Linked DNA regions of Homo sapiens: regions 1, 2, 4 and 5 are each reported to be linked to region 3. The links are microRNA targets in miRTarBase. Many come from high-throughput screens and were not tested one by one. Region 3 holds a microRNA gene; each other region holds the end of a gene's coding sequence.
Evidence for each region. The annotated mature microRNA hsa-miR-218-5p reads UUGUGCUUGAUCUAACCAUGU and lies in region 3 at 1,779-1,799, opposite strand. An mRNA with a match to its seed (bases 2 to 7 or 8) in the 3' UTR can be bound and repressed. Matches are read on the target gene's strand: a 7mer-m8 pairs with bases 2 to 8, a 7mer-A1 pairs with bases 2 to 7 and ends in A, and an 8mer does both.

Region 1 (5,124 bases), not on the chromosome of region 3:
ATAAGGTCACATTCGAGGTCTTGGGACTACGGCCTGCTTGTCGCCCCCTGAGGTGCATGATACTCTGGGACCCACATCTCTGTCTTCGGGGATCGCCTGGCCCTTGTCCAGGCCCCGGGGCCCAGGGTGTAAATGAGAGGACACAGCCGGGCAGGAGGAAGCCGTCCCTTTCCCGAGCTGGAGCTCTGAGGGCGCCTTAGGGGCAGGGGGCATCTGGGTTCCCACCTGGTCAGAGTAAACAGCCCCGGGCGCCTGTGCCATATGCCCACTCCCGAGAGCCTCCGGTGAGGGCTGAGGCCTGCACTGTCCCTGCTGTCCAGGTCCCACTCTGACCTCGCCTGTCTCTGACCCGTTTCAGTACGGAAGCCGCGCTACGTCAGGCGGGAGCGGCCCCTGGACAGGGCCACGGATCCCGCTGCCTTCCCGGGGGAGGCCCGTATCAGCAATGTCTGACCTGGAGGCCGAGACCACGCCACGCACTTGGCGGCAGGGACCCGGAGGCCGACCCCTTGGCGGGAACCAGCACAAAGTGTTGGCATCGCCCGGCGCCCGGGACAGTCCTGGGCACAGCCTCGGCTCTGAGTCCCTCCGCCTCCCAGCGACGGACGCCAAAGGGTCCCGGGCCGCCTGAGGCTCCTCCCCACCACAGCCATCTCGTTTATCGGACCAGGAGCAGGCATCCATGAGACCTCAGAGCTTCAGATCGAGGCCTTGGGGGGTCCGGGCCCCCCCAGGAAACACGGTGAGGCCCCAGCGCCTGCAGCCAAAGCTGGCACGATCTATGGGGCAGGTGCCGCTCTGCCTAGAAAAGCCAGGGGCTCTGCTGCCGTGCCCTCCAGAGCCCACAGCGGGCAGGACTCCTCCAGCACCACCACACCCAGTGGCCCGAGACCCCTCTGAGAACAGTGAGGCTGGTCCTCGTGCCGTTCCAGCCGGTGCCCGGCCAGTGGGGAGGACACAGCCTAGGAACCAGCTGCCTGAGACCAGGGTGCCTCTGGGCTGTCCTCCCGCGTGGCGGAGACCCCAAGCACGCAGCCACCCATTTCCGGAGCTGCAGGATAGAGCTTCCTCTTGATCTCTGTTTTTAAGCAGAAATTCATTGTGCAGAAAAGTCCTCCAGAGCTCTGTGGCCCCGCTCGGATCCGCTGGACCCCCATGCCTGGCTGATCCCTGCCCACGTGGGGCAGGCCCACATCTAACCCCCACAAGTCACTGCCTCACTGCACCTGCCAAGGCTGCCCTGGCGCTGAGTCCTGGGGTCCCTCCCGGAGTTCCTGGGAGAAAGGCGCCGTCGTGGCCGCCTCCCGCACGCCAGGCCCGGGCTCCACCGTGGGTCTCAGACGCCCTGCGGCACCGGCACCGTCTGCTTTAGCATGGGACCCCCCTCTGAGGGGTGGCCTGGCCTTCGGGGTCCCCACGCTCCTTTGCGAAGTCCACTGTGGGTGCCATCATGGTCTCCGGGACCTGGGCCAGCGGGAACGTGGGGGCACTGGGTGTGCTGATATAAAGTCGGCATTACTCAAGCTGCGTTCCGAGCTGCTCTCTCCCGTAGGATGCTCTGTTCTCTAAGTGCAGGTCGGGGAGCAAAGCCCCCGCCAGGCTGGCCCCACGCACTCCGCCACCGTGTGCTGGGGGCAAGGAGGTGGGACGGGGGTGGAGGAGAGTCCAGGTTGGGGCTGCCTGGTTGGGACCCCCCGCCCCGCGCCGCACATTTTCTGCCACAGGCCCATTCCCCAGATGCAACCTGTGCAGGTGGGACCTGTGGTCCCCGAACCCCCAGCTCGGAGTGAGGTGGGACAGAGTGTGGGTGTGCGTTTCCATCGGCCGGCCGGGCTGCGTGGGGGCTGCAGACACGGGCCCCGGGAGGGCTGCCATGGCCATCTGGGGGGGCAGCAGTGTGGGGGTGTTTGCTGACAGTGATGGGCCTGGCCAGAGAGGGCTGAGCTGGGGCAGGACAGGCCTTGAGGGCAGAGGGCCCGGGCACCAGGATGCCAGAGCGCGGGCCCTGCTCTCGTAACCGTGCCCTCCACCCAGGCAGAAACGTCCACTGCCTGGAGGGTCGTGTCCTTAGACACCTGCATCCCTGTCCCCAAAAACCCCCAGCCTGAGGTTTGCAGCCAGGGAGTATCTGGGGGAGCATTGGCTCTGCCCTGGGCCCTGGCCCAAGAAGTGTCCTGGGGCTGGGAGGGTCACTGGTCCTGGGGAGAAAGGGAGGGACTGGACAGCCCAAGGCCACTCTGAGCCCAGTACCCACCGCCCCACCTGATGCCCTGGGCCACGCCCCTGTGACGCGGGAGCCCCCAGACTCCTCCTGTGGGGAAGGAGACAGGGACCGAGATGGGAGCAGAGGGAAGGAGACAGGGACCGAGGTGGGGGCGGAGGGAAGGAGACAGGGACCGAGGTGGGGGCGGAGGGAAGGAGACAGGGACCGAGGTGGGGGCGGAGGGAAGGAGACAGGGACCGAGGTGGGGGCGGAGGGAAGGAGACAGGGACCGAGGTGGGGGCGGAGGGAAGGAGACAGGGACCGAGGTGGGGGCGGAGGGAAGGAGACAGGGACCGAGGTGGGGGCGGAGGGAAGGAGACAGGGACCGAGGTGGGGGCGGAGGGAAGGAGACAGGGACCGAGGTGGGGGCGGAGGGAAGGAGACAGGGACCGAGGTGGGGGCGGAGGGAAGGAGACAGGGACCGAGGTGGGGGTGGAGGGAAGGAGTCCACATCCCCCTGGAAACTCCACTCCTGCATTTGCACCAGGCTGGGCGTCTGGTTTGGAGGATAAAATCGGAAACAGGCACGAACAGCAGGTCCAGCCAGGCAGGGTCTGGAGGCCAGGCCAGACACAGACAGGCACCTCCCAGCCCACCCTCTGAGCAGCCCCCCAGGCCCCATCTCTCAATTCTGGGTCCCCTCCTCCTCCTCCCACCCAGTGGCCCAAACCAAAAACCCAGGGTCATCCTGACACCTCCACATATCCCCCTCAGCTGGCTCCCCACGTCCCCCACCTGCGCACTCGCGATTGGCCCTTGGGCAGCACGTGGTCAGCCAGGACCTGTGGCAGCGAGGGGCACGCCCTCCTCACTGGGCACAGGAGGGACACACTGAGCTGGGCCTAGGGGCGGCCCCAGCACGTCAGGGGCAAAGCTAGACCCAAGTGCACGTCCCGGAGCCCTGCTCCCCCGCACCGGCCTCCCCTCTGCACATCTGGGCCCTTGGGAAAGAATTCCAGTCCCACGGCCAACAGAGCCGCTGCATTTGAGGCAATGGCCCAGCACGGGGCGGGGCGGGGTGGGGCGAGGCCGGGGGCCCCACAGCAGCCTGGAAGGCCCCTCCCCGCACCGGCCGCACCACGTCCCCAGGCCTGGCAGTGCCAGGTGTGACCCGTAACCGAGGCCTGGAGGGGAAGGAGTCCCTGAGAGGGCGTGAGGAGACCGAGTGAAGGAGGTGAGGGGTCAGGTGCTCACACCAGCATCCATGTCTCAAGCATGGGCACGTGTGCTCACACACGCCCACACGCTCACCAGCCCAGCCTCCCGCCCACTGGCTGCGACGGAGGGGACCAGGCGGGCCCACCCCCTGCCCTGGAATCTGCCAGCCAAGCTGCTCTGAGCCTCCCGAGAGCCCTGAGAGACCGTCTGAGCTGAGAGAAGGGGAGCTGCTGGCTCCTCTCCTGCACAGGGAGGCCTGGCCTGGCGCCGAGACCACACATTCCTCCGGCCTTTCCTCACCTTTGCCTCCGGCACGAGTGTCAGCCGGGAGCCCAGAGTGACCTCAGTGCCAGGATATTCCCAGGAGCTGTCGGGAGGACGTTCCCAGAGCTGCAGGGGCCAGGGTGCTTCCTGGAGGCGGCATGTGACCCGAGTCACGGACCTCAGGAAGCAGGAGCCTCCGACGAGTGCTTTCAGGGCCTCACAGCGGCCCTGCACAGAGTCCCCATAGCCTCAGCCTCCCCCCACGGAGTCCCCATAGCCTCAGCCTCCCCCCACGGAGTCCCCATAGCCTCAGCCTCCCGGCACGGAGTCCCCATAGCCTCAGCCTCCCCCCACGGAGTCCCCATAGCCTCAGCCACCCCCCACGGAGTCCCCATAGCCTCAGCCTCCCCCCACGGAGTCCCCATAGCCTCAGCCACCCCCCACGGAGTCCCCATAGCCTCAGCCTCCCCCCACGGAGTCCCCATAGCCTCAGCCTCCCGGCACGGAGTCCCCATAGCCTCAGCCTCCCGGCACGGAGTCCCCATAGCCTCAGCCTCCCCCCACGGAGTCCCCATAGCCTCAGCCTCCCCCCACGGAGTCCCCATAGCCTCAGCCTCCCCCCACGGAGTCCCCATAGCCTCAGCCTCCCCGCACGGAGTCCCCATAGCCTCAGCCTCCCCCCACGGAGTCCCCATAGCCTCAGCCACCCCGCACGGAGTCCCCATAGCCTCAGCCTCCCCGCACGGAGTCCCCATAGCCTCAGCCTCCCCCCACGGAGTCCCCATAGCCTCAGCCTCCCGGCACGGAGTCCCCATAGCCTCAGCCACCCCTCACGGAGTCCCCATAGCCTCAGCCTCCCCCCACGGAGTCCCCATAGCCTCAGCCTCCCCCCACGGAGTGCCCATAGCCTCAGCCTCCCCCCACGGAGTCCCCATAGCCTCAGCCTCCCCCCACGGAGTCCCCATAGCCTCAGCCTCCCGGCACGGAGTCCCCATAGCCTCAGCCTCCCCCCACGGAGTCCCCATAGCCTCAGCCTCCCCCCACGGAGTCCCCATAGCCTCAGCCTCCCCCCACGGAGTCCCCATAGCCTCAGCCTCCCCCCACGGAGTCCCCATAGCCTCAGCCTCCCCCCACGGAGTCCCCATAGCCTCAGCCTCCCCCCACGGAGTCCCCATAGCCTCAGCCTCCCCCCACGGAGTCCCCATAGCCTCAGCCTCCCCCCACGGAGTCCCCATAGCCTCAGCCTCCCCCCACGGAGTCCCCATAGCCTCAGCCTCCCCCCACGGAGTCCCCATAGCCTCAGCCTCCCCCCACGGAGTCCCCATAGCCTCAGCCTCCCCCCACGGAGTCCCCATAGCCTCAGCCACCCCTCACGGAGTCCCCATAGACGCAGCCTCCCCCCACGGAGTCCCCATAGCCTCAGCCTCCCCCCACGGAGT
Region 2 (5,000 bases), not on the chromosome of region 3:
GACAGGGGGACAAGGCTGAGCATGGTCCCCAGACGTGCCTTACCCACCTGGCCAGAAGCGCCCTCAAGGCAGACAGCAAGGCCCCCAGCCCCTTCTGCCGCCGCCGTACTTCGGGAGGACCCTACCTACCTTGCCCCACAAGCCTGACCCAACCTCCTTCAAGAAAACACCAGGCCCCAGTGGCACTGCCACCCTTCCGCCCTCACAGACTCCACCGCCCCCTCCAGCACCACCAGCTGCCTCCTCAGCCTTCTGGGCTGCCCCAGGGTCCCACCTCCCCTCCCCAGGGACAGCTCCCAGAGCCTGGGCACACTCAGGATCCTCCCCTGTGTTCCACACCACACACAGCCCCGACGCCCCACGCTCCTCCCAGGGCCAGGCTCCGTGTGCCCCACCCAGGCACCCCCAGGCACACTAACCGATGCCGTCGGGCAGCCTCCGCAGCAGGTTCTGGGACAGCAGCAGGTCAGTGAGCAGCACCAGCCCGCCGAGCTCAGCAGGCAGCTCCTCCAGCCGGTTTTCCGACACGTCCAGGCACACCAGGCGCCGCAGGTTCCCGAGCTCCTGCAGGTGGGCAGAGAGTCAGAGCGCGGATGGGCACGAAGCAGGGGGCCAGCCCCACCCTGACTCACCGGGGGCAGTGCTGACAGCTGGTTCCGGTCAAGCCACAGCTCCCGAAGATTGGGCAGAGCCCCCAGAGTGTCTGGCTGCAAGAAGGAACAGAGAAAATAGTGACTATGAGGCAAAGCCTCCTGCTGCGCCGTGCTCAAGAGACTATACGCCCCCACACCCAGCTCCCACCCGCCTGCCCTCCCGAGGTGCCCCTTGCTGTCGGATCTGCTCGCTGTCCCCTTCTTTGCCCTTGCTTCCGTGGCCCGCCCTCCGGTCTCTGCCCTGTCAGGCCTCCACGCACCAGCACTTCCAGATCGTTGCCTCCCAGATCCAGCTGTTCCAGCTTGACCAGAAATGACAGGGACCTGCAGAGGAAGCAGGGTGGAGGTGTGGCCACGCAGCCCTGGTCCCTGGGCTGTGGCCCTGCCCTGGCTGTTAGGAGAATGCCTGTCACACTCACGCTGGCAGGGACTTGAGCAGGTTCTCCCGGAGCTCCAGGGTCACCAGGTTGGCGAGGCTGAAAGAGAGACCAGGCGCTGGGGCAAGAGGAAGGAAAGCAGTGGCAGCAGGGGCAGGGCCAATCCTGGTCCCCCACCCCACCCTAGTTCCACCTGAGAAGGCACTCACTTGCCCACGTCCCCGGGCAGTGCCTGCAGAGACACATCATTCAGGGCCAGGTGAGCCAGGCTGCGCAGCTGAGTGAAGCCATCAGGGAGCCTGGATGGGAGGAAGCAGAGGCCCTCGGATGACCAGTCCAGGGCTGTGGGACCCATAGCCCCTACCGACCCCACCACAGGCTGCCACCCACCTGGAGAGGGGGTTCCCGCTGAAGTCCGCGATCTCCAGAGCCTTGCAGAACTTGATGCTCTCCGGGATCTCAGGGATATCTGTCACAGAGGGTCACAGTGGACAGATGCCATGGCCTGCAGGCCGTCTGCAGCCCCAGCGGACACTCCCCAGACCCCACCCAGCCCCTGCCCAGGCTCCCCACCGTTCCGGGACACGTCCAGCTCCACCAGCTGCATGAAGTTGGCCACCTCGGGAGGCAACCGCTGGATCTCGTTGTCGCTCAGGCCCAGCTTGCGCAAGTTCAGCAGCCGGAAAAAAGGCTGTGGGCAGGGAGGACACGGACTCTGTGGCAGAGACCACTGCAGAGCAGAGAAGAGCTCCTGGACACGTGAGTGTCACAAGTCAAGAGTCCCTAGGCCTCTGTCTGCTCCAGGTCACACCGGGTCCTGGGGTCTAACCACGACACCCCATTTGCAAAAAAAGGAAAGAAACACACGGTACACACGCCCACTGTGGCTGCCTCCCTCTACTCTTCACACCAGCCTCCACTCTGAGAAGACACCTGCTGGCGACCAGACAAAGCCCCAATCCCCTACCCTGTGTCTTACCTCAGGGCCCACCCAGCCCCTGAACCACTTCTGCCACCCTCCAGGGGCCCACACTGGCCTCTGCTACTGCATCCTGACAACAAGCCTGGCCTGGTTCTGCAGCAAGAACTCAGTAAACGCTCCCCACAATAACACAGTACCACAGGCACAGTGCTACGCGCGAGGCCTGCAGGTGGCCACAGAGGACCGAGCTGTCACTGCCACGGCCAGAACAGGGTCACATTCTTTGGGACACCCAACCCCTAGGTACTGATCACCCAGCACCCCATCTCCAGAAAAGAAATACTTTTTAATCTGCTTTCTCCAGCCTCCTTTCTTGTAGCAGCCTTAGGAGAGCACCTGACCACGAGAAGCAAGGGTAAAGAAAGGGGGACAGCGAACAGATCCGAGAGCAAAGAGTACATCAAGAGGGCTCCCCCACTCACCCCTGCACCCAGCAAAAAAGGAGAGGAGGTCTGGACCCACCTCCAGAGCGGCCCAAGAAGCTAGTACTCATCAGCCACCTGAATCCAAGTTCCACCCTAACCCCATCCACCTCCCTGAATCCCCACGGGTTTCACTCTGAGGCTCCGCCTCCAGGCTCGGTGACAATCGCTATCCCCAGGCAAGCACCTGATGACCGCTGCCACCTGCGCCAGCCAGGGCGGCTGGAAGAGAAGGGTGGGGCTGGCTGGGGTGGGGACCTGGCCAGTGCAAACCAGCAGGGCCGGCTGGAGGCTGCGGTGACTCGCCCGGGCAGATTCTGCCGCCGGAGGAATCACGGGCTGGGGGCGCGCCTTTGGGCGGCAGGTGCGGGCGGCCGCTCACCTTGGGCAGCTCGCGCAGCTGGTTGGCGTCGAGCAGCAGCTCCTCCAGGCTGCGGCTGTAGCGGTAGATCTCCTCCGGCACGGCCTGCAGCGAACAGTGCCGCTTGTCCACCGACTCCACGTGCCGGTTGCAGCGCCACAGCGGGATGCACTTGAGCATGGTGCGGGTGGGCGGCGCGGGCTCCGGCGGCGGCGCTCGGCGGGCTCGGGGCCGGGGGGCGGGGCTCAGTCCGCATGGGCGCCGCGCATGGGGAGGGGGCGCAGGCAGGGGGCGGGCCGCCCGAGACTGGACGGGGACGCGGCCGCGGCCGGCGCTGGGCCCGGCCCGCGCTCGGAACGCTCGGACTGCGGGCCTGGGCAGGGGGCGCGGCCCGGCGGGTCTCAGACTCTTAGGAAGCGCGGGGAGCGGCGGCGGCGGCGGCTCCGCATCCCGCTTGGTCCTGCTCAGCTCGTCCCGCCCGCTCGTCCGCCCGCTGTGCCGCACCGGAACCGCCGCTGCCCGCCGGACTGCCCCGCCGACACCCACCCGGCCGCCGCGCAGCCCGTCGGGAAGCCGAGTCCGGCCCTCGCCGCCTAGCACGCCCGGACTGCGGCCCCCAGAAGGCCCCGCGCGCCGCCGCCTCTGAGGACCCGTAGCGGCACCGCGCAAAGCGTGCCGGGAAGCCGGGCCCGCCCCGCGCGCGGGATATTGGGAGCTACAATCCACGAGAGGCGGCGCCCTCCGCCCTCCGGTCTTCAGCCCGGCCCCTGGCCCCGCGGCATTTGGCCACGAATCTTAACGCACAGCCTCCTCCCGGGAAGCGACCATGCCCGCCCGCCCGCCTTGGACGGCCGGCTCTGCGGCACAAAAGCACTGGCAGCGCGCGCTGTCCAGCGGGTCGCGGTGTCCCGGTGCCCAGCCTTCTCTCAGCACCACCCTGCGGGGACGGCTGCGAGCCCGCGCGCGAGAGCCTGGCGCCCCAGGCAGCCCCGCCCACCCAGCCGCCGCCACCCGCGGGACGGGGCCCGGGGCGCCAACCCCCTGCCCAGGTCTCGCCCACGGCAGGCCCCTCCTGCCAACAGGAAGCAGGTCCAGAGACCCCCCCAACCCTGCCTCCTCGCCCTAGACCCCCTAAGGACACACGCCCAGGATCGGTGACAGGACCGACGGCAGACACACGGACGTTCAGGGCCAGCAGCATCCGCACCTTTATCCGCACTGTAGGCTGGGCTGGGCAGAGCGCGCCTGGCCCCGGGGACACCACTGTATCACTATAAAACCCAGAGGAAACAAGGAACAAGTGCAAGTCCGGGGAGAGGGACCACTGTCACGCAGAGAGGTCACTGTTATCAAAACGCTCCTGGTCGTACACTTCAGCCACCACCTTGCGGCCAGCAAACCAGCGGCCATTGAGGGCCTGGATGGCCTTATGAGTCTCAGAGGCTATGGAAAACTCCACAAAGATCTTGACAATGATTTCTGCATCCTCCTCCTCGCCTTGTTTCTCTTGGTAGATGATGACGCGGTTCACGGCCCCGAACTTGCCACACTCCTCTGTCACCTCCCCTTCCAGGTCATCATCGATGTCCTTGGGGTCCACCATGTTGCGCAGAACCATCACTGTAGACTGTGGGGCAGGGCCGAGGGGAAGACAGCTGAGCACTGCGGCCCCGCCCCCCTACCCTCTCCCCCGCCACCACCCTGCCCCTCTGCCTACCTCCTGCTTGCGGAGCAGCTTCTGCATCACCATGTGTCGGGCGCTACTGCCCGAGATGCTCATGTGCTCCTGCTCGCTCAGCATCTCTGGCCGCTCTGACTCGGGAAACAGCTCCTCTTCTTCCTTCTCCTTCTTGGGCTCCAGGAGACCCAGCGTTGGAGGGCTGGCCAGGATGGGGTTCACCACTCCCACCGAGGGGATGGTGACCGGGATAGGAGGACGGGCTGGGGTCACACCTGCAGGAAAACCAACCAGGTCCATCAGTCACTCCCTACCACCCCCCTTCCCAGAAAGGCACAGAGCTGGCCTGCCCTGGGCTCAGAGGGTTGTGCCCAGACCACCAGGGCCAGGCAGCTGAGGGCAGCGAGCCGAGAGATGCCAGGACAGGAGAGGAGAGGATCTGGTACCACTTAAGACTCACCTGTGATGACTCCAGGTGCCTGGGCAGCCATGACAGCCTGGGGCAAAGTGCCCAGGGGCTGGGCCAG
Region 3 (5,124 bases):
ATGGGCAAGGCTGGGGGACCAGCTGCCAGTGGCTGGAAGATGCCAACTGTTTTACTAGGAGTTTGGTCACCAGTTGGGCAGGGAGCCGTCCTAGTAAGCTATCCCCTTTGGAGTCTATTATGAGTGCAGCCATCTGCCTGAAAACAGAGGGAAATACCCATGGTCTGAGGCTGGCACTGCCTCATCACAGCCTGTGGCTGCGGGGCCAGTAAAGCACTGATGGAAGGGCACCATTATGGACCCACTCCCAGAGGCCTGGTCCCTGCCATGTTAGGGGCAGTGCCGAGGGCCTCAGAATGCCCCTCTCTGTAAGGTGGGAAAGGGAACTTCTCCAGGCTCGAGGATTTGCTCTGTGTTAAATGGGATCTTTGTATGTCCATGCTGGAGAGGAACAGCCATTTGAATAATGCTTTCTCTCTTACTCAAGTTCTTTCTACTAACAGATGAAAGTCTGAAAGGGAGAGTTTAAGCAAATTTCAAGTCCCTATCAAATCACAGTTTTTAAATGTTCTAATTCAAGGCAATGGGGTTGTCCACAGCTGGGAAGGTGGGTATTACAGCAGTACAGTGCAGCCATTCTGGAATCAGATGACCCTGGGTAAGTTAGCTAACCTCTCTGAGCCTCAATATCCTCATCTGTAAAGTGGGACTTTAGATTTTGTGAACATTAAACAAGGTAATGATGTGAAAACAGTTCACTGCCTGGCCTATAGCAAGCACTCAATGTATGTTAAAAAACTACTAAGCAATGGTTGGGCTCCTGGTTCTGAGGGGTAACCTCAGATAGACGAGGTAATAAGAGTCACACCTCATGATGGGGGCCCAGGGCTCAGCTTCTAGTTCTGAGCTAGGCTAAAGTTCCCACCTTAGCTCTCTCTTGCAGAATAGGACAAAGACTCCAGGACAGGAATGAACAACACAGTCTTCTGGTTACACTGGGTCTAGGATTTATCAAGGAACAAGCAAAATAAGAGGTACCAAGATCCCTCTCTTTATTATCAGAGATAGCAGGTTTCCACGTCCACACACACTCCCCTCCCCTGAAACAGAATTAGCACCAGGTGAGGAGCCCAGCACCTCCACGTTAACTGTGCTTTGCAGGTCAAGGAAACAGACTGGACTTTAGGTTTCATGGGGTTCAGGGACTGTGTTTTCATAAAGTATGGGAATGAGGTTCAGAAGGAACCTTGGGTTAAACCCAAAGTCTCAGACTCACATGAGTTTCACCCATTCTCATGCTGACGTTCATTTCAAATAAAGTGAATACCAATAAAGGTGGTGGTGGGAGGGGTCGGGGGTCACAAGCAGTAGGAATTCCCCTTTGGGTTAGCTGCCACTTGGAAAAATGACCTTGGGTTGGGACTCTCCCATGAAACCATGGGGCGTATGCCTTGGGTATACTTGTTCCCTTCCAGTGGAAGAAGAGACACAGTAGTTTCTGAGCTTGAACCTAGTTATTACTCCTTGTCTGACATCCAGACTAGATTTGGGGGAGGGTGACTCCATTTTGGGAAAGAGATGTGGATACAGATCTCTTTCCCCAGGGTGCTTCTCCAGACCCATTTCCCTCTGTATCTGCATCCTTTGAGACTCCTACCCTCCTGCCTTTGGTGAGTTGAGACTGGGAGAGGTGGGTCTGGCAGGTGGTGGGCTGCGGTGCTCCAGAGCAGAGGAGAGGTGTCCAGCGGTGGTGGCGGCGGTGGCGGGCCATGCTGCAGGAGAGCACGGTGCTTTCCGCGGTGCTTGACAGAACCATGTTCCGTTTCCATCGTTCCACCACATGGTTAGATCAAGCACAAAGGAAAGCCCCGCAGCGACTGGTCAGAGTCAAGGTCAGGAAGCAGCGTCAGAGAGAGGACAGGAGCGCTCAGAGGAAGCAGCGTGGAGAAGCGGAAGCCGGAGCAGGCCCCCACTGAGCGTGATTAGTATCAGGAGTGGGGTTCCACTGGAACACTTCCGAAGATTGCAGCCCTGCTGCCCTTGTGCCCCACCCCAGGGAGACACAGTAGGAAGGGAGAAGAACGGGAGGGAAATCACTGGATGCCCATACTCGGGAGCTTCAGGACAGCATGGTTCCTTCCCAAGGAAAGAAAGAACACTCAGACATCTGTGATCCTATCACATGCCTGAATTGAGCCTCTAAACTCCATTCAGTCACACCAGTTGGTCTGACAAGACATTAAACTTAGAAAAGCATCTTCTGCATGCTTTGCAACATAGGCCCAATCCCCCCAACAGCTGAGTGGTTCCATCACAGTCATTCCTCTAGCCCCTTAAGTCAAGAGACAATCCACAGTTCCCAGTGGTCTAGCAAACCTTCAATGCTGTTCTTTAGGAAAAAGCCCCCTTTGACATTCCACAATTCAGGAGTCTCCTTTATATCCTTTGAGGTCAGCAGGAATGCTCTGGCTGATAGACACTCATCCCAGATCATTTGAGGTTTAATAGAGGAGCAGTGGGGTGTCAAAAGAAAATATATCTCTCTAGCCAGAGAGAAAGACAGGAAAACAAATGGGGCCGTAGGGTTTGGACTGAGGAACCTGCAATCATAGTTGTTGTTTGAGAACACTGACTTTCACAGAGATGGTGGCCAGTGCGCCTCCTGATGAAGGGCCTCTTTGAGACTAAGAGAAGGAAGGAAAGGGAAGCCAAGTGATGAGTCTGAGGGGAAGACACTGAATTCTGGGGTCCTTCTTGATTTCTTGTTCTCTTCCTTAGCTGGAAATTATGGGAGCGAACAGGATGAACCAATAACCACTGTCAGGATGCCAAAGGCCCAGGTGAGGGTACCCAGTTTTTATATTCCTCTCTGTGATAGATCAGGGTCAGTTTCCATGAACCTGCTGACTTGGGACTTCCTCCCACTTGGCATTAGGCTGGAGATGTGCATCTTGAAGAAACTGGAGCTAAGGCTAAGTGACTGAGACCCTCCCTGCCTGACCTCTGACATGAGAACCAGTATCAACATTCTTCCACTATGTGTTTTTGGGACTGGGCATATCCTCTAGATGGTCTCAGCATCTCAACGGTGCATAGGTTGTCTGCCATGTTGGACCAGTTAGGAAGAGCCAGCCCACAGCTCTGGGTCTGTCTGGCCTCTCCTCCTTCCTAAGGTCTCTCATCACACGCACTAGAGTCAGCCACTAGAATCTGGACTCCACTCTGCTTTGACACCTATGCAGGGCTCTGTGAACACTGTGGTTCTGGGACTTCAAATGTGAGTTTGATTAGGACCCTGGTACAAGAGCAGGGGAAATCCATCCTGTTCGTGCAAACCGCCACCCTCACCAAGCCTTAAAATCTAATTTTCTTTCTCTTTGGTTTCTTCCTACAAAAAGAAATGGAGGGATTTGTAGGTAAATTATCAAGAGTCTTCACAGTATGTCAGAAGTCCTGGGTTTCAGATCTTGCCCTAAAAATAATACTCAATACCTTAGATAAGATTTTTCTGCTGTGTGGACCTCAATTTATCCATCTCTAGAATAAACTGGATGACCTCTAAGGTTTCTAAAAGTTCTGTAATTCCTTGAGAGCTATCTTGCTGTTCGCCGTCTTTGGACACTTTGCGTCACCACCCTCTGTACTTTTCAGCAAGAGAGTTTCTTCTCACACAAAGCGGGGAGGCATGAAGGAAGACAGACAGCACCCTGCAACTGCCAAGTGCTCCCAGGGATGGGCTTGGGGTCCCAGGCAGCCAGACGGAGCCTTTTCAGGAGGACTTAATCTGATGGTCAGATTACCCCAGCCGGCAGCATCCAACCCTAAACTGATCTTGCTGCCCAAGGCGGCGGATGCAGCTGATAGAGAGAGGCAGACACAGGCAGCTGGGAAACCAGACGCCCTGCCTAAGGAGGGGCAGGATGTGTTACGGAGCAGCCCTCAAATTGCCTCCTAATTACATCAGCTGTCTTTTCAATGGGGGTGCTTTTAGGAAAAAGTAAAACGCAGAGTTATTATCTGTCACATCCAGTCTGTGTCACCTGCCCCCCTTCTTTCTTCTGGAGCTTCCTGGAAACACAGAGCTTTACATCTATGGTTTTTCTTTCCCTCCAAGGCCAAGGCAGGTCTGGAACCCCATGTTTCTCAAAGCCAAGGCCTTTGGAGCTCAGCAGTCATGCTTTCTTTGCAATGACATAAAATAAAAGCAAATAGAGTGCTACGTGTCAGTCTCATGCTAGCTCCAAACATCTCTACTTTTTAGGAATAATCTTTCGCTTAGCATTGTTTTTTTTTTTAAAAAAGGTATCTTAGAGTCAATCCAAGAACCTGGCTCCTTCTCCCTGTTTCTTTTTTAAAATGTTCAGCTTCCCCTCCCCCACATAGGAAAAGCAGCCAGGATCCTGCAGATCTACAGGTAGGACGATAGTGGCAGAGCTAGAGTTAGAACTAAGCTCTACTGCTTCCTAGGTCCACTTTCCATTTTCCTTTTCTCCTACTTAGTTCTTTCTATAGCCCCACCCCCACCTTGCCACCCCCAACCACAGTCATGCCCAGAAAATTGCCAAGACTGTGTTCCTGGGGAGATACCAGTCCTTGGATCCTGCACTCTTTCCCTGCTGTGCCACGCAGGGCCGCCACATCCATTTGGGGTCCAAAGTACTAACAGGATACTTATGAGACCAAAGGGTCAAGGTTGGCAGATAATACCCTGCCCTCCTCTGGCTCTCACTGTCCTTCTTTTTGGGTACCACTGTTTGGCAGAGCTAATTAACTCAGCCCTGGCCAGACAGGGGTAGGAATAGAGGCCAAGGTTGGCGTGAGTCATGAGGAAAGGTGCTGGGGATAGGACGATTGTGCTTTGGGTGAGATTTTCTTTCCAGAGATGTTGCCAGGCCCAGGAAGGAACCTGAGGACAGTGTTCAGGGAGCGGGTAGGGGTGGGAGCATGAGACCAGGGAAGGAGGTCATCCAAGCAGCTGATTGTCATCCCCAAATATTCCTTCTCTCCCAGATGCTGTGTGGTGTGAGGACCAAAATGAACCTGAGGTTTAGTCCTGCCTCCGCTGTTTGCTGGCTTGTGAACTTGGAGTGCCCCTTCACCTCTAAGTCCTCAGTTCCCTCTCCTATAGAGCAAAGGGCTCTCCTACTGACTTCCCAGGACCATTGGAAGAAGCAAATCAGACTA
Region 4 (5,124 bases), not on the chromosome of region 3:
CATTGCTTAAACACAATCATCGCTTGTCATTTTTGGGACTGTCCAAAGAAGAGATGTGATTTTTTTTTTTTTAATATAGTAGAAGCTGGAAATTCATACAAGTTTTTTGGCTTTAGTGTTATTGATAACTTTTCAGTCTTTAAAAGGAAACTGTTCTCACAAGCAACTTTATCTTTGCCAAGGTGAATATGTGAAATAGCAAAGGTGTTCTAGTGCAATACTGCTGAGTCTTTCATGTGTGCTCGTATCCCCTGGGAACCTGGTGAAAATGCAGATGCTGCTTCACTAGGTCTGGCAGAGGGCCTGGGATTCTGCATTTCTAACAGGCTTCCAGGTGAGGCCAAGGCTGCTGGTCCTAACCACACTGTAAGGTCTTGGGGAACTGAGCATAAAAAATAAAATGTCCATGGCAATATAATATTGGCTTTTAATATATTTTAAATATTTTTAGATGGTCCTATAGATTTCTCCTCTTTGAAATGGAACTTAAAGTTAACTAACATTGTTCATGCTTATTTTTCAACTTAAATTGTCCCAACAAAATTGAGGGGGTTCTATCTTGATATTCCACTTCTGGATTTAAGCATCTTACTCAGGGAGTAAGTCCTGGCTAGCTGTGTTTCCTTGTATGTATGGATCATTGCGGTGCTGTGTCAGAGGCTGGAGTGAAAGGCCATCATGCAGCCCAATCCCAACACTAAAATCAGAGTAGGGTGACAGGCTTACCACCCAGAATCACCTCCTAATAATCAGGAAGTTATTTATGATTAGAGAAACTCCAACCACATCAATTCTGTCTGGGAAGGAGGTGTGAATCAGTTAATTTAACACATAGCAAATAAAAATCTATGGTCCACAATATCATGTTGTCTAGCTCCTGGGGACAGGCAGGCTCCATAGGCCACTAATAACAGAGTGAGAATTACTGACTGTGGGGGGCGGACACAAGGGGTCAGCTGAGGAGCGCAGTTTGTGACTTTCCCTATAGGCAGTGACCTCGGGGTAGTTGTGGGGCTCTTTCTTCCTGGAAGCATAAATGTTGGTCTCTTATGGCTTCCGTCTTCCTGGCATTAGGTTACACTTCAGGATTCTGACTCTTTGAAAGGGTTGTAGATAGTCTTGATTAGTACTGTATTTAAAAATGATTTTTTTTTTTTTTTTTGGAGTATGGGAAGGGGCAGGAATTCTAATTAAATAGCAATAATGGAAGGTGCTCGGTTAAAGCCTCCATTCTCACTGATTTAGAAAGTACAAGAACATCCTCATCTCAGTTTTGGTAGATTCAGAATAACGAGAAAATAAGGATGTTCATTTCATAAATATTATAAAGAATAAAGGCATTTGTAGAACTATCTTTTTTTAAATTTACAGGTCTGGGGAGTAAAATACAATGGAAATGGTTCAAAAATTGTGTCTGTTGGAGATGACCAGGAAATTCACATCTATGATTGTCCAATTTAAACATCAAAGTCTCCAGGCTTATGCTGCAAAGAGAATGTACGGATTGATCATGACATTCCTTACCTTCTTAGGCTTGTTTAAAAGAAATATAGCATTTATTGTAGCAAAGACTTAAATTTTGTAGATACAATATGAATCTTTTCATGTTTTATTGGAAATGCTGTTCATACTTTAACATAAAGCTTTCTTAATGCAAACACTGGTGTCCTTGAACATGCTTCTTTTTTCAGTTACCCTATTACCAGTGAAACAGTGAGAGGGATTGGCATTAAGAGCAAATCTCTGCCTTAGCCATCAAGAGATCCAGGTATTTCTTTAACTTTCCAGCTTAGAAATACAGGCTGACTCTTCCAGGGAGTTGACTTATGCAGTGAGATACAGCAGCGAGCTCCCCGGAGCTGTGATAAAGAAGCTAATCTATTTTAGAATGGAGTCCTGAAGGAAAGAGTATATTTGACTGCATAGGAACATTATGTACTCCTGTCTATCTGGGCATCCTTCCACTTGATGTATTAAAGATGTCCCCTGCCAAGCCCTCCTTCCCCTTATTAATTTCAGAGAGGTCTCTAACTCGCTAGGTGGGTATCGGAAGGCAGGCTGCTATTCTTGCTGCCTTAACAATGCCTAGGCTGAAGCCTGTGCCTCATGCTGTAGAACTGTAGCCCTGCCTTAGTTATTTCAGAGTATCTGTACCTCAGAGTTTCCTCTTCATCAGCCCCCTTGAGACTCATGTTAATGAGAAAGATGTAAGTAGCTGAACACTTGGAAGCGTGTTTTTTATTGATCATTACTTCATATGCTTATGAGTCAGGTCATGTGCTTTTCCTCAAACCACTCACTGCCCTCAGAATAAAGCTCACACTCTTTATCATAGCCCCCCACTTCTCCCTCCTGCTTGCCTTGCTCACCCTCCTGTAACCACATCATCCTTGCCATTCCTCTGCCTGGAATGTTTTCCCTCCAGACCTTCGGACATCTGCTCCCCAGCTGCATCCAGGATTCTGCCCAGATGCCAGCTCCTGGTAGAGGCCTTCTTCCCATTCCCTTCTACTCATTCCCATTCCTCTTGTTCTTCATAGCAGTTACCACTTTTTGTTTGCATTCACCCCCACCCCCAAAATAAAGCTCCATGAGGGTGGAAACTTCATTCCATTATGTCAACCAATGAGAGGCAAGCTGGCAGGCACCTAACACTGTTTATGTGAGCTCTCAAAAAAAGGAAAAAGCAAAGCCACTTATCTCTCATACCAGCTCAATTTTAATTTTAAAGTGACAAATGTACAGGTGGAATAAAATTTTAAGCGACACCCTCCAAATTCCTTTTATATGACAAGAAGGAGCTGAATGTAATTTTACACCATTACCAACTAAACAGTAGTTCTTTAGCAATAATTAGGAAGTCACAGCACAAAAACGACACCCCAGAGTTGTGGTCCATTTATAAATAGATTTTCACCTAGGCTTCGTTGGAAGAAGTGATTTTATATCTATCCTCACCAATGGTCAAAGTGGGCACAGGTGGGCTGTTTCTATACTTTGAGCAAATTATGCCTCACTAGCTGGCAATGTTTTGCGGGAACCTGGTCCGTGCAGCTGGTTCACCTTACCTGCATGGTCTGATCTGCACTTTGACCCTCCTAAGGAAGATCCCTGGTCTGAGTGAAACTCTCAGGTGCCATGTAACCAAATAAGGGTAGGGTAGATCTGACAGGTGGCCTCTGCTTTAACCCAGCAGCTTACAAGTTTTTTGTGACTTGGGGAAAAGAAATAAGCAGTAATGGCTAAAGACTGAGGTAACCCTAAGTTCGAATTGTAGTCTACCTGTCATGAATAAAATAATGACTAATATCCCTCCAAACAAGCTATAATTTACAGTAGTAGTCCATACAAACTGTAATCCACAGTGGAACTCAGCGAAGTTCTTACCAAAACATCACTTGAGCAGGAAACCCTTTGTAATATGGCTGTGCAATGAGAGGAACGATCCTTTGGAAGGGAGCTCAATCTGGGAGAATGAGGTGGAAAACACTGGGGAGTTCTATGCCTTTGCAGACCCTCAAGTCACCCCGGATTACTGGTCAGAGAAGCTGGCTGTGCCATGGGCCAAACCAGCAGCATTCTCCCTTGGCTTCTGTTGCTGCACTGAGGCTGCCGGGGACACAGAAGGATTTAGTTTTCTTTACAAGTAAGCACTTTGGTGGGAAAGCATTGCAAAAGTTGTCAACAGAAAATCATTAAAACCCTGAAGAACAAGGTGTGAGGGTCACAGGCAAACAGTTATCAGCATATGATTCAAACACTGGTTTGTCCTCACCACAGAGCTTGGAAGGTTCAGAAAACTTCCAAGAGAGATGATCAGACACTCACGTTCCATCCACTGAAGGGCACAGAACAGTAGGAACTAAGTTGGCCCTGTTAAGCAGGCACATGCAGCCATGTCCGATCCACGGATGTGCTTTTATTCTTTAAGAGGATCATCTAGAATCCTCAGAAATGTTATCTTAGCAGCCCTGAGATCATGCCCTCAATAACTCTGCCAAGGGAAGAGGGGAGAAACCACAGACCTAGAGATGAGTCAGGATGCCCACTTTGTGCCTTGGGGTTTGCTAGGGGGGCTAAGCTGCTAACTGGGCTGTGCCTTATTGGTGACACTGAATTATGGCAAAGCCACTAGAAGCACAAAGTATTGGTGCAATCACTGACATCTCAAAAGTATATCCTGAAAATAGAAATGAACAGATTCCATATGCAGACTAGAGGTGATTTATACTTAAAACATTTAAATATAAATTAAGCTATAACTTAAGTTACAACCAAAAGAAAAGCCAAAAAGACACTCAGCAATTAAGAATGCTGAACACATACACAGGACATCCCAAACACAAGGCCATTAAAGCGATGTCATTTTCATTGTGCCAACTTTACATTCATCATGTGCTAGTCCGGTGGGGCCACGCTGCCCCGCACCACGTCATGCCGTCTGGCACTGCACTCCAGCCTGGGGCCCGTCTTCGTCCTCCTCGTAGGCCTCCCTGTGCTGACGCCAGTTCTGCTCATTGGGACAAAACTCCTTCAGCTCCACCTGATCCATGTCATCTGTAATCCTCACTTTCTGTCGAGGAGGGAGTAAAGCTTCCAGCTGAGGAAGCTTTTCCAGAGAAAGCCAGTGTTTTTCAGGAAAGATTACCTGTAAAGGGTGAGGTGGGAAAGAAAGGTGGCTGTTTTTTCCCCTTCCAATTAAGGCATTTAATAATATGTCCATGACAATGAAACATAGTGAACTTACTAAAAACTGTATGATCAGAATCCCTTTTTCCAGGGGTGCTTTGTAGATGGGCATTCCTTCATCGCGCACGCATCTCAGGTCCCCGTGCTTTATCACCTCACCTGCCAGAGAAAGGGTCAATTAGGAAGGAGGAAGGCAGAGGGGCCTGCAGAGGTCGTTCTCCCTCATGGGAGAGCCTGCGGCAGGCCCTAGTGCCCCGTGGCAGTGGGCAAAGGAAACGTGGCATCTGACTGGAAAGCTGGCCCCAATCCCAGGTATCCTTGTCAGGTACTGCCTGGGGAAGGGGCTCAGGCTGAGACTCTGGCCTGTGCTCTGGGCTCCAGCAGTGTGTCAAGAGGGCAGCATGGTGCAGCTGCCATCACAGGTAGGTTTAAAAC
Region 5 (5,124 bases), not on the chromosome of region 3:
TGACCCTCCCACACACACAATGTAGTCATAGAAACACCTAGAGAACCTCGAGCCCCGCCGCGGAAGAGGCAGGAGAGGGAAGAAAAGCCTCGGGCGGCCGAGGTGGGGGTGGGGGCGAAAGGGGACGGCCAGCCCCAGATCCAAACCAGTTCCAACGACAAAAACAGCCAGCGGCGGGGGGCGAGGGGAGAGGGACGGTCTCCCCACCCGGCGGCCAACCCTCCCGCGCACAGTTGCTCACAACAAAGTGAAAATCCGCCCTCCAGACGGACCCATTCCTCCACACCTTTTCCCATGTGTGACCTCACTACCAACAACATCTGATGTTTGACGAGACACATATTCAAAGGGGTCTCTCCAAAGGAGTTAAATAATTAGGTCACAAAACTTGTAGGCATCTAATTCTCACGCGAGTTTACCCCGCTCCCCAAACACCAAACAAACCAACCAACCAAACCCATCTGAAAGAAAACAAAGGCAGCATCTGGGCGACACCCCCCTTCCTGCGTTCCCCCCAGTTATTTACTGGGTGACCCCGTCCTTTCTCTTCACCTCCTCACCCAGCGCCTCGGATTATGAGATAATGGATTTTGCGATTGTTCTTGTCAGGGAAAAAAATCTCCACAGAACCCCACGTTTTCATCTTTCAACTGTTTTATTTAAGCCAATGGGAAGGTATTGAGGGCAGTAATTGATTCATAATGATCCATAAATCGATGTCGGAAAGCGGGGGGAGAGGGTGGAGGTGTACTAAGAGTATGGGGGGGTGGCGATGCTGTTTATTTCTAAAGCTTCAACTAAAGTAGCTTTGACACTGTTGGGGCTGGGGGGGGAGGAGCTGTTGGGCTCTGCCGGATCATCCATCATTCCTGTCACCCAGAGTCTGCCCGGAGGAGCCGTAGACGCAATCTCCCTTCTGTCTCTACACCGAAACTATTAATATTAAAACCTCCCTTCAAACACTGCCCCGACGGTCTCCATTCTCATCACAATCTGACCGGCCTCCCCCATCAGACCAGCATTTCCCCCGCGCGGCACTTTCTCCCAGCCCCGGCCCCGACGGAGGGGGCCCGCCCCGGCGCGCGACGCCCTGAGTTGATGACTGCAACTGTAACTGGGACGGGCCCCCCGTGCCCCCATAGTTTGCAATACGTTGGTCTAACTCTAACACACGCGCCCAGGGAAGGCCAGGTGAGGGCCAGGGTAGCCCTCTGCACGCCCCTCTGCCGCGGCCCAAGCCTCTGTCCTGCCTCCTCCTAGGCTCCAGGACGCACGTCTGCACCAACCCCGCTGGGTGGGCGGCGGGGGCTGCGGCCGCGAAGCTGGGGTCACTCCGCGCATCCAGACACCCGGACACCGGACTTTCTAACTGAGTGGCAACTTGTAGCGGAGGTCCAGGCTCCTTATCAAATTGCTGGCCTGCTAGCTAATGGAGAACTTGTGGAGGATCCCTGTCCAGTCCCTTTGAAGGAAGGTCCCTCCTTTGACAGCTGCTAGAGATATTAGCCACATTTCCCTTCCCAAATCTGCTCCGGGTTAACAGGCCCGCGGGGGCGGGAGGGGGTGAGGAGGCAGGAGGATCCTGGTGGACTCTAACGAGGGTGAGAGCTGAGGGGCGTGAGGGGTGCTGACCTAGGGGGTGGAAGAGAGGAGGGGTGGACGGAAGACACAGACTTTCCTGGTCTTTTCTCTCTTTTTCGTTTAAAATGTGGCTTCTTGCTCAATTCCCAACCCTTAACAGATGGCGACTGCAGTTCTCTCAGAATTTCTTAAAGAAAGGGAAACCTTTGGAATTTATTTCTGCTTTTGCTTTTTCATATAAATAAAAAAGTGTTTTTATATTACTCTTGTTTTGGAGAACATAAGCAATTTTATTCAGACTACAGTATTTCCTTTAACACTATATGGTTGTCAAAACACCATTCCCAGTTTCTTTGCTTTTGACAGCTGAGTCTTTCTTAAATATACCCAAATCGGAACTCTTTACACTAAATAGTAAACCCGAGATAGGAGCAAGTGCCTTCCGGGGTGGTGTAAAAAAAGCATTATAAAAATTGGACAAATCTATCACTTCTCTGTGTTATCATGGGGTTGGGGGTGGGGGAGAGCAAGGTAATGCAAACAAATATTACAATTATCATTCATCTCCAAATATTTAAGAAGGTTAAAGTTAACATGATAGGACGTGGGTTTGACGAATAAACTAAGCATGAGATGACTTTATTCATTAAAACCAAGAGTTGAGAGCTCTGGTCTCTAAACTTCAATGAGATAACTTGATAATTGCATAAAACACATCCTAAACACGAGCCAATTGCCAAGGAAACCCTTCAGAATTTACTGAGTGGAAAGAAAAAAAGGTTCTTTTTCCCACCTGATGTGAGAGTTGATTTATAATGGGGAATTTTCATAGTTTACATAAAAGTATTTAAAGTAAAAATAGGCAAATATTTAAAATTTACAAAAAGACTTCATGTAAAATAGAATAGCAAAAATGAGAGGGAAGCTATCTCTCTTTCCCAAGTGGCACTGAATTTCTCTATTAAGTTAGTTTGTGTCAGAAGCATTATTTCTATGTTTAAACAGCAACACAACACTTAAACTGAAATGTATTTGTAAAAATTCTACCTGACTAAATATAACACAAAACAATAGAAGTGTATTTCCTCGTTCATTTATATAGAACCTCCATAAATGCTGTCTGAAATGGAAAGATGGAAGAGCCCCAAATAATAACTATGGATTTCTTCCAAGTTTAAGTTTGCAGAGATGATGAATAATTTCCTTAGCCGGTTGACATCACATATCTAGCCAAAGTATATGACATTATTCTTTCTAAACAAAGATTCAAAATTTAAGAGTTAAAAAATTCCAGGATAGTATATTTATTTGAAAATTGAGGGGACATGCCTCACCCTTTTTGCACACTTTAGCAGACATTGTTTGTGCAGTATCAATAAGCTAATGGTATAGATTTCCAGGAATGTTGCATAAAATTTTGAAAATGGCATTATACCGTCCATTTTGTTTTGTTTTGTTTTCAGAAAAAAGTTTAAGTTTAGTTATCAAATCATCACACTAGCATCCCTGCACATGGATGTGTCTGAAATAAAAATATACCACAATATAATTTATAAAATATTAATGATTAAGTAATCTTTTAAAGTCAGAATTTCAAACTCCATAGAAGTTGTTTACTTATCTATGAACACCCATATGTAAATTTTCATTTACATATCCAACAATATTGTAGTAAGACAGGCAGAGGAAAAACACAGGCAGATAAATTACCTTTGAGCACAGACATTATTTCTTATGTTGTAAAATTAACCCTGAAAAGTCCTTTATTCTGGCAGAGGATGCCCATGAAAAGCTTTATCTGAAAGTATATATTTTTTAACGTCATGCATCTAAAAAGGAGGTTGAGCATGTTCAAGGGGATCTTTCAACCTGGCTCATCATGTACACATAGTTTCGTACCTTTAGAAGTTTTCTGCTGGTGGAACTTATAGGTCAAATAGACATTGAAAGGCTATAGATGATTACCTTAAAAATTATTGATGAGTTTAAAATATACTCAACTGCTGGGGGGAAAAACCTACTTTTAACACTGTATAGAGTTGGCATTGTGCAGTCTTGTCCTAAAACCATTAAAAACGCAAAAGCCTAACAAAAAATCAAAAATGAAATATTTATTACCGCTTTTTGTGACTTAACACCTTTTTTTTTTTAACATAACGTCACAGTCCTCATACAAGTATTTTAATGTAAATTTGACAAAGCTTAAAGGTAACAGCATTTTCTTCTAGTGAGGAACACGTGCTGAGAAAAGAAGAATTCATGGACATACAATACCAATTCCACAGCAGATCTGATACTAGCAAAAACATTCTTTTTTTTTTCAATTGAGGTAAACACATAGAATATCTAACATGAAACAATTAATAGACCGAACTCTGTACGAAGTTTGTTACAGTATTCTCTTGCTCCTTTTTATCCCCCAAGCTTTGAGTTTCTGATAAAGTCCTAGTTATGGTTCAATGACCATTAATAACTTTTTTTTGTGTTGAGGAAAGCTGCCCAACTTAAGATTGTTTTGTCCACAACCAAGGCTCAGAACTCCTGGAAGAAGCTCCTGCTCTGTCTTTAAATCTTCATTGGCAAGCTCTTTGAAGAAGAGTCCCCCAAAAATAATAATAAGAATTGGCTTATGAAGCACGAACTATAAAGATCTGTTTGAAACTAAAGGACACATTTATGGAGGAACAAAGGCCGGGCATGAAAACACATTCTTGAAGCTGGAGTTCGAGTGATGAGGTTCAGCCAAAAGTTCATCATGATCTCCAGTGTGGTTCTTTTCTCATTGGCCCAACAGGTTTAAAATATATACCACAGTCTCTCCTGGATGGTGAATTCACTGATGAACCAAAACAGTCATTCTTTTGGGAACAACACACATAGTGTGGAAAACAAGGATATATTTTTTTTTCTCTTCTAAAACTATTTGAGGCAACATAACGGCGTGATCAACAGAAATGTACAAGTTTAACTTAGTTCCTATATTTATACTACAGTAGTTATAACTCTCGGAGTCTTTTTCCAGAGGATCTTTACATGGACAGAATTGTCTCAGTCAGCCCATGATTTCACATTTGTGTTCTTGTTGCATTGGTCCTCTGTTGCTTGATGAAAAATGACAAAAGTAAAAAATAATCACAGCTGTCTGGAATTTCATATTAAGTGTCAACATCTGGTCAAAGTTCAGAAAGTCTTAAAATAGTTTTTGCGTGTGTTTCCTTTTCCCTTGAGTTCCCTTATACTATTGGGCATGAATGTCCATAACCTGTCCGCCAACATTGGGATCTACAGAATTTAACATTGTGGGGCTCTGTGCTGACATAGTCATTCCAGGGTGGGTAGGGGGTCCTCCGTGCATCATCATGGCTGGGTGGTGGGGATGGCTTGGCAAATATGAATGCATTGGGGGTCCATGTCTTAATTGAGTAGGGTGTGGGGTCATCTGGGGAGGAGTGTAACTTGGCTGTGCCATACTCATTCCCATAGGACCACCCTGAGAAACGTAGTCCCCTGGCATGCTCTGCAAACCTGAAAATAGAGAGGGAA

Region 1: miRTarBase lists C1orf159 as a target of hsa-miR-218-5p. Seed matches in the 3' UTR shown: 7mer-A1 at 522-528.
Region 2: the mRNA of PUF60 is a reported target of hsa-miR-218-5p. The part of its 3' UTR that is shown has no 7-base or 8-base seed match.
Region 4: miRTarBase lists DNAJA4 as a target of hsa-miR-218-5p. Seed matches in the 3' UTR shown: 7mer-m8 at 3,913-3,919.
Region 5: the mRNA of MEIS2 is a reported target of hsa-miR-218-5p. The part of its 3' UTR that is shown has no 7-base or 8-base seed match.

What each region holds. Positions count from the first base shown.
Region 1 is chr1:1,078,222-1,083,345 of GRCh38, reverse strand. It overlaps C1orf159 (chromosome 1 open reading frame 159), which reads left to right. Exons shown (of 10, transcript NM_017891.5): 10 at 359-1,523. The coding sequence ends at 453. Among named protein-coding and RNA genes, the nearest start is that of RNF223, 6.5 kb to the right of the region's middle. RefSeq lists silencers at 1,246-1,425, 3,055-3,154, 3,215-3,294 and enhancers at 1,443-2,144, 2,145-2,847.
Region 2 is chr8:143,812,398-143,817,397 of GRCh38, forward strand. PUF60 (poly(U) binding splicing factor 60) reads right to left here. Exons shown (of 12, transcript NM_078480.3): 10 at 4,934-5,000; 11 at 4,513-4,748; 12 at 3,947-4,422. The coding sequence ends at 4,123. SCRIB (scribble planar cell polarity protein) reads right to left here and starts at 3,376. Exons shown (of 37, transcript NM_182706.5): 1 at 2,817-3,376; 2 at 1,604-1,721; 3 at 1,421-1,499; 4 at 1,240-1,329; 5 at 1,073-1,129; 6 at 914-977; 7 at 633-707; 8 at 420-564. The coding sequence starts at 2,975. It overlaps MIR937 (microRNA 937), which reads right to left and starts at 645; the gene lies at 560-645. RefSeq lists enhancers at 1,754-2,418, 2,703-3,335, 3,336-3,968.
Region 3 is chr5:168,766,433-168,771,556 of GRCh38, forward strand. It overlaps MIR218-2 (microRNA 218-2), which reads right to left and starts at 1,823; the gene lies at 1,714-1,823. All of the region lies in intron 14 of SLIT3 (slit guidance ligand 3), which reads right to left.
Region 4 is chr15:78,279,769-78,284,892 of GRCh38, reverse strand. It overlaps DNAJA4 (DnaJ heat shock protein family (Hsp40) member A4), which reads right to left. Exons shown (of 7, transcript NM_001130182.2): 6 at 4,748-4,848; 7 at 2,702-4,648. The coding sequence ends at 4,433. SKIC8 (SKI8 subunit of superkiller complex) reads left to right here. Exons shown (of 11, transcript NM_025234.3): 11 at 1,372-1,658. The coding sequence ends at 1,461. Among named protein-coding and RNA genes, the nearest start is that of SKIC8, 17 kb to the left of the region's middle.
Region 5 is chr15:36,887,354-36,892,477 of GRCh38, forward strand. MEIS2 (Meis homeobox 2) reads right to left here. Exons shown (of 12, transcript NM_170675.5): 12 at 1,851-5,106. The coding sequence ends at 4,820. Among named protein-coding and RNA genes, the nearest start is that of MIR8063, 83 kb to the right of the region's middle.